Linked DNA regions of Homo sapiens. The protein of the gene in region 1 purifies or fractionates together with the protein of each later gene. This does not show direct contact. Each region holds a gene or a part of one and is shown on either strand. Other genes may lie near its edges. The genes, in order: SNAP25, TTYH1 and STX1B.

What was found.
Region 2: the proteins of SNAP25 (region 1) and TTYH1 purify together in Homo sapiens (co-immunoprecipitation; one study listed by IntAct). This does not show direct contact.
Region 3: the proteins of SNAP25 (region 1) and STX1B purify together in Homo sapiens (co-immunoprecipitation; one study listed by IntAct). This does not show direct contact.

Annotation. Positions count from the first base shown.
Region 1 is NC_000020.11:10,291,766-10,295,418, reverse strand, and holds part of SNAP25 (synaptosomal-associated protein 25), read right to left. Parts: intron 2,538-3,653; coding exon of another isoform or gene 2,420-2,537; intron 2,259-2,419; coding exon 2,141-2,258; intron 1-2,140.
Region 2 is NC_000019.10:54,428,918-54,432,570, reverse strand, and holds part of TTYH1 (protein tweety homolog 1), read right to left. Parts: intron 3,265-3,653; coding exon 3,192-3,264; intron 2,690-3,191; coding exon 2,614-2,689; intron 2,022-2,613; coding exon 1,966-2,021; intron 1,759-1,965; coding exon 1,666-1,758; intron 1,473-1,665; coding exon 1,380-1,472; intron 1-1,379. UniProt on the Homo sapiens protein: Calcium-independent, swelling-dependent volume-regulated anion channel (VRAC-swell) which plays a pivotal role in the process of regulatory volume decrease (RVD) in the brain through the efflux of anions like chloride and organic osmolytes like glutamate.
Region 3 is NC_000016.10:30,991,171-30,993,764, forward strand, and holds part of STX1B (syntaxin-1B), read right to left. Parts: intron 2,315-2,594; coding exon 2,177-2,314; intron 2,071-2,176; coding exon 1,960-2,070; intron 1,732-1,959; coding exon 1,651-1,731; 3' UTR 1-1,650. UniProt on the Homo sapiens protein: Potentially involved in docking of synaptic vesicles at presynaptic active zones. May mediate Ca(2+)-regulation of exocytosis acrosomal reaction in sperm.

The DNA.
Region 1 (3,653 bases):
CTTTTTTAATTTTTATTTTTCCAACTCCCCATCTCCTCCCTCCTCAGATTAAAAGAAGTTATATGGACTTTGTGATGTTTTCTGCTATGTCAAATGTCTGCTATACCATCTTTGGCAAAGTCAAAGGAGTGGGAAGTATGCGTTTCTGAAAGAAGGCAAACCACTGCACCCACAATGCTGCACATAGACTCACATCACTGCCGTACATCTACCATCGTCCCTTGAAACATGCCGAGACAGGGCGAAGCCCTCAGAGAGTCCAGGGCACCACCAGCCACTGCGTTGTGACACATGGTTTTTAAAGCATTATTTACACACAATAGGGAACACCTCAGTCAAGCTTTGAAGCTTAGTTTAGGGTCTCTTGTGCATTAAGGAAATTAGTGACCACTCAAAAGTGGAATTCGTAGGAGCCATCATTTCATTAGAACATCAGAATCCATCCCAGGGGACCCTGCCTTCACCCTTTCTTCACACACAGTTGATGAAGGGGGGAAAATGTATCTGTTGGAATTTATCATGAAATGGATGGAAATCTCACCTGGGGGCAAGTTGCCACTGAAAGGAATATACAGTCAAATCTTGACTAACTGGAATGCTTGGTAATGAGGCTTTTTTTTTTTTTTTCTGATGAATTATATGACTTTCTTAATGAACAGTGGGGCCATGGAGGAAAGTTTTGTTTCATGGATGATGAGTGAATATCTTTGCTAGACTCCTGAGCCACTTTCCTGCCTGAAAGTCTTAAGGTAGAAGACCTGATTGAATCTTTCCTTGGTTATCATTTATACTGATTGCTTGATGGCCTTTTCTGTGAAGATCAACTCTTATTGTTTGGTCCTCATAGATGTGGAAGTTGCAGGAGGATGGAGACTAAGTGAGACAATGCAAACTACCCTGGAAGAAAAACCATTTTACATTTCTGATGTGATTTTTTTTCTTTGTTTCTTTTTTGCTAAAAATGGAAGGGAGCAAGAGCATGCAGCTGAGGTTTCCAGTTAGCTAGATTCCAGTTAATCAGGCTTTACTGTAGATCACTCTTTAAAAAGCAGAATTTTTTAATTTTTTTGCAATATGAGCCCCTCCCCCTCCTAAACAGGAAGTGGGATATTTTAAATCAGCCTCAAAGTTTAAAGGATGTGAATGGTCATATAATCTGCTAAAAATGACGTCAATTTCTATTCTAAAAGCTAGGATCAGGAGAGCTTTTAGGAAAAAGTCTTCTTTTAGAAGGGGGAAGTGGGAGGGGTGAGGGAGATTGGATAAGGAGTTTAATTTTCCAAATGCATGTTGGGCAATCCACTCATGCATTTCTTTTTCCACCACTAGTCAAATGAGACAATCTTCCAGAACCCTCAGTTTTAGGTTCCTTCCATTGCAAACCTTTATAACCACATGTCACATTTCTGCTACATTCCAAAAAAGCGTTGCAGAACCTTGAGAACAGTTGAATGTTTTGTGATGTTGTGCATGCAAAATCTACACATTTCAACATTTCAGCCAGTGTACGGGTAGATCTTCCAAGGAGAAAAATTTGGGAGGGATGGGTCCAATTTGAGTAAGGCTTGAGCACTTCTTGCTGAAGAGCTCATTGCCTCTGTGTTGGGTGCAGTGGCAGCATCTATTGACAAAATTTGGCAACTGGTGGGCAGTAGAAAGGGAGAATCTCTGTCATATTCTCTAATTTATAGAATCCTTCCCTGGGCCAAATTACCTGTCTCTTTTATTTTGGAAAAAATCAAACCTTCGCATATGTGTTTCTCATCTTCCAAACTTACCCGCAGCCTTTTCTAAATCTGTAATTTTGACTCTTGGGGTTGGGGAAAAGGAAGTTCCCTGGGTGCCTCTTTCTTGAGGCTAGCCTCTGTCTCAAGGTACACTTTCTGGAAAATGTTGAAACGTTCATCAATAAAAGTTGCTGACAGTGAAGCTTTCACTGTAGTATGCCTGATTTTTAATGCATCAACAGTAACTCCTGCTAATATCATCTATGCTATGAGATGAATGCATTGGAGACGGTATTGATCTGTTCTGCATGCCACATGCTCATCCTGCCTATGAGCTTGGCAGGAATGAGCTTGTCAAGGCTTGGAGATGGGCCTTGGGAAATCAAAGCTTCAGGCAGGCAGGCAGCACCTACTTGTTACAGGGACACACACAAAGCCCGCAGAATTTTCCTAGGTCCGTCAAATTCTTTTCTGCTTCTTTCATGTCCTTATTGATTTGGTCCATCCCTTCCTCAATGCGTTCCAGTTGTTCTGATTAAACACAAGTATTTTATCCCCACAGAATGAAGCAGATGGAAAAGGACAAAGAAAAAAAGACAAAACTTCAGACATTCACTTTGACATTAAAAAAGAAAAAAAAAAAAAGAAAGAAAACTGGACGCCACAGATTAGAGCTGGTACCCAGTACCTACTTGTTACAAGGACATATGAAAAGGCCACAGCATTTCCCTAAATCTTTTAAATTTTTCTCAGCCTCCTTCATGTCTTGGTTGATATGGTTCATGCCTTCTTCGACACGATCGAGTTGTTCTGGTTAGGACAAAGGGATGACAGTGTGGAATGAATTTTTTGGGGGTCTCCAACAGAACATGAGAAATGACTATGTGAAACAGAATTTGAAAGAGAGATATTACAATGCATTGTCCAAGAGGATGCATTGTTGAAGACTGCTACCGCTGCCCTACACAGGTATGGGTGGAAAGAAACAAACCAAACGATGCTCAAAATACTTTGTAATTCAACATGATGGGATGGGGTGGAAGGCCTGTTTGATTCTGAGTGTCCAGGAAAACAGCACAGCATATTCGCTTACTCAGGCACCAGTGAAATCCAGGAGAAAAAAAAACAGGGTGTTAGTTTATGTTTTAGGCATTCCAGTTTAACGCTACTAAGGAAAGGATCTGCTTCAACTTTAAAATATCTCCATCTTTTGGTTTTTAAGCATCCTCAACCAGATAAGGGTAGAAAATAGAATCCATTTTCTTCTTTGGAGACAACAGCAGCAGCAGCAATCATAAGCAATGGGTATGGATGTCTTTTCTTCCCCTAGCAGTGGCAGTCTAGCCAGAGGTAGCCATGGTCTGCACTTGATTGTGCATATGTAATTCGTAAAAGCTGTTTTTTAAAAAAAGAGTAACATCCACACAGCAACATTGTAAGTCCTGGAACATTGCAATTCCTCTATCATCCTATGACTTAATTGCTATGAATGTTTTGGAAGGCATTTCACTTCTCTGCCCCCTGATTTCCAAGTCTATAATGGGGGTCATGCTCCAAGCCCAGGCAGAGAGCAGGGAGAATGAATGTCTCTTTGGAAGTAGGATTATGAATTGGAACATAGGACAATATGGTGTCACTGCTGCCAGCATAGCTGACCTTAGTGTATCTAAGTACATAGATCAATAGTCATAAAAATGAATCATACTTCTAGGTTGCCAAGGTTACATACACCAACTTGATTAATTTTTTTGAATTGTATCACCAAATTGAGATAACTACAAGTTCAATGAAAGGATTTTTAAAACAGCTTTAAAAGACCATTAAAGGAAGGCAGCAATGGATGTCTTCGCTGGCTAATTACAAAACCTAATTACATTTCCATTCCTCTTTTCATCTGTATTTTCATGCATGCATGCCTGTGCCTCC
Region 2 (3,653 bases), on another chromosome or scaffold:
GAAGCAGAAAGGACAAAACTGGGCAACTGCCTGGCTGTGGGGGGCAGAGGGCGGGGCCCTCCGGAAGGTCCCTCTCTCCTCAGTGTGCATGGGCTGGCTGGCCGTGTGACCTTGGGAAGGTCCCTCAACTCTGCTCCTCATCTTCTAACCTGTTAGGTGGGATAATCATAGTTCCTTCTTCATAGCATTGTTATGAGGCATCGATGAGTTACCACCTGTGAAATGCAACAGGGTCAGGTACTTGGTGAAGCTATGCACATGTGAGGTCTTTGATGGGAAGACTGGCCGGGGAAAGGCATCCTCGGGTGTGTGTTTTAGAACAGCTCTTACTGGTTTTGTTTGTTTGTTTGTGACAGAGTTTCGCTCTTGTTGCCCAGGCTGGAGTGCAGTGGCACAATCTTGGCTCACTGCAACCTCTGCCTCGTGGATTCAAGCGATTCTCCTGCCTCAGCCTCCCGAGTAGTTGGGATTATAGGCGCCCACCACCATGCCCGGCTAACTTTTTCTATTTTTAGTAGAGACGGGGTATCACCATGTTGGCCAGACTGGTCTTGAACTCCTGACCTCAGGTGATCCACCCGCCTGGGCCTCCCAAAGTGCTGGGATTACAGGTGTGAGCCTCCGCGCCCGGCCAGCTCCTACTGTTTTATAAGGGGATTTTTTTTTTCAATCCTCACAGCCATCCAGTGAAAAAAAAACAAACAAAAAAAACTCGTCCTTCCTCACGGTACGGGTGGGAAGCAGAGTCAGCCACGCTCACCTGCCTATGGCCGTGCAGCCTGCGGCAGAGCCCAAACTGGAGCCTGCAGGACACCAGATATCTTTCCTCCTGGGCACCCTGCCCACCCCTGCCTGTCCAGTGTATGAACAGCACAAGCCGCAGGGGAGCTGGACAGGTGCCCACTCTTGCAATCCCAGGTTTATAAGTGAGGGAACTAACTGAGGTACAGAGAAGTTAGGTGACTTGCCCTTGGTCAGGAGGTAGGACTGGAACCCAGGCAGTCTTGCTCCAGAACTCACTAAGCGGCAGCCTCTAGGAGGGAGGGAGAGGCAGGAGGACGGAGAGAGGAGAGAAGACAAGGAAGGAAAAGGTGGCAGGAAGGGACGGGGAGGGTGGGATGGGGACCCAGCGGGGAGTGCGGGAGTTGGGGGGAAAGGGAGGGAGGAGGGAAGGAATATGGATAATGCTTGATAGGTAGGTAGACGACAGGTTATAAATAGGTAGAGAATAGATATAGGACAGATAAATCATATAAACAGAGGATACAGAGATATCCTCAGGCGCAATGGCAGGGGTCCAAGGAGAAGGAGGAGGTAGTTCTGTGGGTCGAGACAGAGGCCCCCCGTGGGAGAAGAAATTGGGAGGGGAGGGGCTTCACCTTGTGCAGGCTGCGGCAGTGTAGCAGTGCCACCAACTGGTGGAAATTTCCTTCTGTCACATTCAGAGTCTCCTCCAAGGACAGCAGAGGCTTCTGCGGGGCGAGGAGGGGTCGTTTTCCCACGAACTCTTCAGGCCCGCCCATCGCCCTGGCCCCGCCCTGCGTCCCCGCCCACAACCCAAGGCCCCGCCTAGCTCTGCAGCCCCGCCTACGCCCCACAGCTCCATCCCGCCCCGTCCGCCTTCCCCGTGGGGTCCGCGTGTCTGGGGAGCGCCCACCCACCGACCTGCGCTGAAGGGAACTGAGGCACAGCTTCTCGCTCCAGGCCCAGCAGCTGGGAGTGGATGTTGGCCAGAGCTCGCTGGGACAGAGTCAGCCTCTGCAGAAAGAGAAAGGGAGGGAGGAGGACCCAGGAGTATACGCCCCCGGCCCTCTCTCCTCTCCTCCGGACACAGCACTCGGGCCCCTGGCCTGCATCCTCCCCGGAACCCAGGAGTCCAGGCCCCAGCCCCAGCCCCGCCCCCTCCCTTCAGAGTCCAGATTTCTGGCTCCCTCAACACCCGTTTCCCCTGCCCGCAGCCCTAACCTGTTGGAAGGGGTTGGAGACGGCCCGGTTGCAGAGGAGATAATAGCTCAGGATGTCTGAAGTGGGAGGAGGAGAGGGGAGGAGGCCATGAGCCTGGGCCCCCAGGGATCTCCCGGGGGAAGGCCGGGCACTGGGGGGTTAGCAGGGTTAGGGGCCTCAGCCCAGCCCTGGAGCCCGATGGCCTTACCTTCAGAGACCCGCCAGCCCCGCGTCCCTTCTGCTCCTGCCACAGCCAGAGCAGGCGCTGGTGGGCAACCCTATACTCCCTGGGAACCCCTGACTAAATGGTGCTCCCCAGTTTTCTCCAGGGGGCCAAACTCCCCATTCCTGACGCCCAGGAGCACCCTCTCCTGACCCTCCTCTCTCTTCCTGGCACCATTATCTTTATCCTGCCCTCTTTTCCAGCCCACCAGGAGAGGCGCTGCCAGCTGGAGCAGAAGGGATGAGGGTCTGGCGGGTGGCGGGGCTCCAGGAGGGCTCCGAGCTGGGGAGTGGCCAGGAGCCCTGCTTCCCTTCCAGAGGGCTGGGTCTCGCCTGGCAGGCTGCACCCCCACCCCACCCTGGGCAGGACCGGGCACAGAGGAGGCCTGAGGAAGCCAGGGCCTGCACTGCCCAACCCGGCGGACCCACCGGGCCCTTGGAAATCACCTGAGCTGAGCCCTGTCTCCTCCTGGGTCAGGTTCAGAACATAAGGGTCTGGATTGGAGCAGAAGTCACTGAGGCCCTGCGTGAGGCAGCAGAAAAGGGGCTCAAACCCAAAACTGCCCCGATTCCACACTCCCACAGCACCCAGTGCCTGGCTCCCCAGCTCCCCTCCCCACCCAGGGGTCCAGGTCCCAGCCCCTCTTCCCTCAGACTCAGGAGTCCAGGCCCCAGGCCCCTCGTCCCTCAGACTCAGGGGTTCAGACTCTCCAGCCCTTTCTCCCTCAGACTCAGGAGTCCAGGCCCCCAGCTTCTCCTCCCTCACACCCAGGAGTCCAGACCCCCAGCCCCTCCTCCCTCAGACCTAGGAATCCAGGTTTCCAGCCCCTCCTCCATTACAGCTCAAACGTCCAGGACACCAATCTGTACCCACTCAGGCCCCAGGAAACAAGCCCTAAACCTCAGAGCTGTGATCGTGCCCCCCAATTCCTTTCTCTACTAAGCCATGCCATCCCGAGATCCAGAAGTTGAAGTCTCCAGGCCCCCTGAGTCCCAGAGCCCAATGGCCCGGCCCTGGCACTCACCACGGCCGTGGCTGCCTCCAGGCCCATGGAGCCCCAGCTCAGGACGAGAACCAGGAGACTCATGACTGTCATCCTAGAGTGGGGGAGGGAGGATCAGCCCGGGGTTCTTAATCTCCTAGCCTAGCCTCTTTCCACACCCCAAATCCCATCACAGCCGCCCCCCACCTCCACCCACCTCTGGAGCCTGGAGGATCAGAATTAGGGAAACACAAGTTCAGTGGTTGGGGGTAGGCCAGTGGCTGCTGATGTCCAGCTGGACATCTGGCTCCTGCCCAGATGAGCAGGGTGTGGGGTATGAGCAGGGCCCTGGGCTGGGTGGTCGCAGCTTGGATCCCAGCTCCAGGACCCTGGGACGGTGACTGCTCACCTCTGGGCTCACTTCCCCCGAAGGCTCCCCCAAGTCCACCCACAGCCTGATCAGCCTCTGGCTCTGCCCTGTCTCCTCTGAGAATGGGAGACAGT
Region 3 (2,594 bases), on another chromosome or scaffold:
TTCGTGTGATCCCCGCACCCATGCCAGCGTGCATGGTTTGTGCCTGGTATGGCCCCTGCCTGGGGCCACCTCGGCCTTGCCACGTGTGAGCACACTGAGGGGTACCAGCTTCCAGGGGCTCGGGGCTATGCTGGGCAGAGACATGGAGGAAGATGAGGATCTAGGTGTGAGCATGCAGAGCCCTGAGGCTGGGCAGGCAGGGAGCTCTGCCTGCACAATGATGTAGCCGTGTGTGGCCACACCAGCACTGGGCAGCACCTCTGGGGAGGGGGGCAGGGCAAGGACAACTGGAGAGACAAAGCCAGATGGGGCCACGTCCTTAGAAGTGTGTGTGCACGCACGTGTGTGTGTGTGTGTGTAATACGCAGGGCAGAAACACACCATGTAGGTCAGGCAGGACAGAAACACATCATGTAGGCCAGGCGTGGTGGCTCAGGCCTGTAATGCCAGCACTTAGGGAGGCCAAAGTGGGCGGATCACCTGAGGTCAGGAGTTCGAGACCAGCCTGGCCAACATGTCAAAACCTCATCTCTACTAAAATTCTAAAATTAGCCAGGCGTGGTGGCAGGCGCCTGTAGTCCCAGCTACTTGGGAGGCTGAGGCATGAGAATCGCTTGCGTCAGGGAGGCACAGGTTGCAGTGAGCTGAGATTGCGCCACTGCACTCCAGCCTGGGTGACAGAGCAAGACTCCGTCTCGAAAAAAACAAAAAACAAAAAACAAAAAAAAATTAAAAAGCACACCATGTAGAGAGCCCCTAACACACACACACACGTGCATACACACGCACGCCACACACACACAGCTGCATTCTAGGTAGCAAGAAATACACATTTCTGTGCCCTCCCAAAACAGGTGTCCAGTCCACAGTGTGGAGGGCTCTATCTGAGAAGACCTATCAATACTTCAGGCACATCCTGGACACACACACACACACACACACACACATGCACACCCTCCTGGGACATGCCACAGCCCCTGGGGTAACAAAGACATGGGGTGTCTGCCATGGCCTGTGTGTACCTGGGCCTCCCTGGATCCTCTGAGAATGTGAGTGTGAGTCCACACACACCACCTGCCTGGTTTGTAGCAGACACAAAGGGCTCAGGTATCAGTGGCTTTGTTGCTGTTGCATTAGGTTCAAACACTGAAACACAAAATTCCACGTACACAAATGGTGTGTCCACAGATCTGTGGTCTCACGCACGCACACACACTGTTCACAGAGGACAGAGAGGGCGTGATGGACTGCTGTGTTACACTTGGCTGCAGTCTACACAACAGCCCCGGTGAAGGGGGAAGCTCAGACCACGCACACACACCCAAGGTGGGGGTGGAGGGGGTGCTCTGGTGCATCACACACATCACACGCACACGCACGCTGGGGTGTCCACACGTCTCGAGCATGTGCCGGCGGCATGCATGTTGGTGTGCATGTGTAATCACGCCTGCTGCGATCTACGTGCGGGGACGGGGGGGGGGTCCATGGCCCGGTGAGGTCCAGGGACACCAGGGTCTGCCGTGGGGGTGGGGCTGCCTGGGTCTGTTTTGGGAGTGAGCCTGGAGCAGGGGATGGAGTGAAAGGGGTGGTGGGGGTATTGCTCCCGATGTGGTGGGGGAAGGGTCTGGGAGAGAGAAGGGTGGGGGGGGCCTACAAGCCCAGCGTCCCCCCAATGGATGACGCCAAGACCACCCCCAGCACCACACAGCAAATGATGATCATGATTTTCTTCTGCAGCAGAAAGAGGAGTGAGACAGGCAGACAGTGAGAGAGATCGACACACGGACAGATGCAGGGACAGACAGGGCAGAGGGTGGCAGGGAGAAGAGGGGAGAGAAAACAGAAACAGGAAGAGGTCAGAGCCAGAGATAAGGCCTCCCGCCCGCTGCCATCACTCACCTCAGCCCGGGCTCAGCCTTGGGCTCCCCCGCCTACCCCCAGGCCGCCTGCCCCGCTCACCCTCCGGGCCTTGCTCTGATATTTCACTGCTTTCTTGGTGTCAGACACAGCTCGCTCCACGTAGTCCACAGAATGTTCCACGTTGTACTCGATGCGGTCAATCATCTCTCCCTGCAGACAGAGGAGACATGCACAGGGAGGGATGGGGGCTGGGCTGGAAGAGGGGACCTCAGGCCCAGGGAGGCTCCCAGAGTGGCATGGGTGGCAGAGCCAGTACCTGGCTCTCTACGAGCATGGCCATGTCCACAAACATATCGTGCAGCTCGCGGATGCTGGTCTCCAGCTTGATGATCTCATTGTGCCTCGTCTCAATCTCATTCAGCGCCTGCTTCGTCATCTGTGAGTCCATTTTGATCTAGGGTGACGAGGGAGAGAGCTACAATCACCCTTCTCCGCCATGAGCGCCTCCACCGCAGTGGAGTGGCCAGGGTCAAATCCGGTGTCATTTACTAGCTGAAACCTTAGGCACATTATTCACCTGCTCTTGGCCTCAGTTTCCCCACCTAGAAAATGTGGATCATAACACTGCCCACCTCACAGGGTGGTTGTGAAGACTGAGTGAGTTAATATGTACACATTGGTCAGGCACGATGGCTCACACCTGTAATCCCAGCACTTTGGGAGGTGTGTAGATC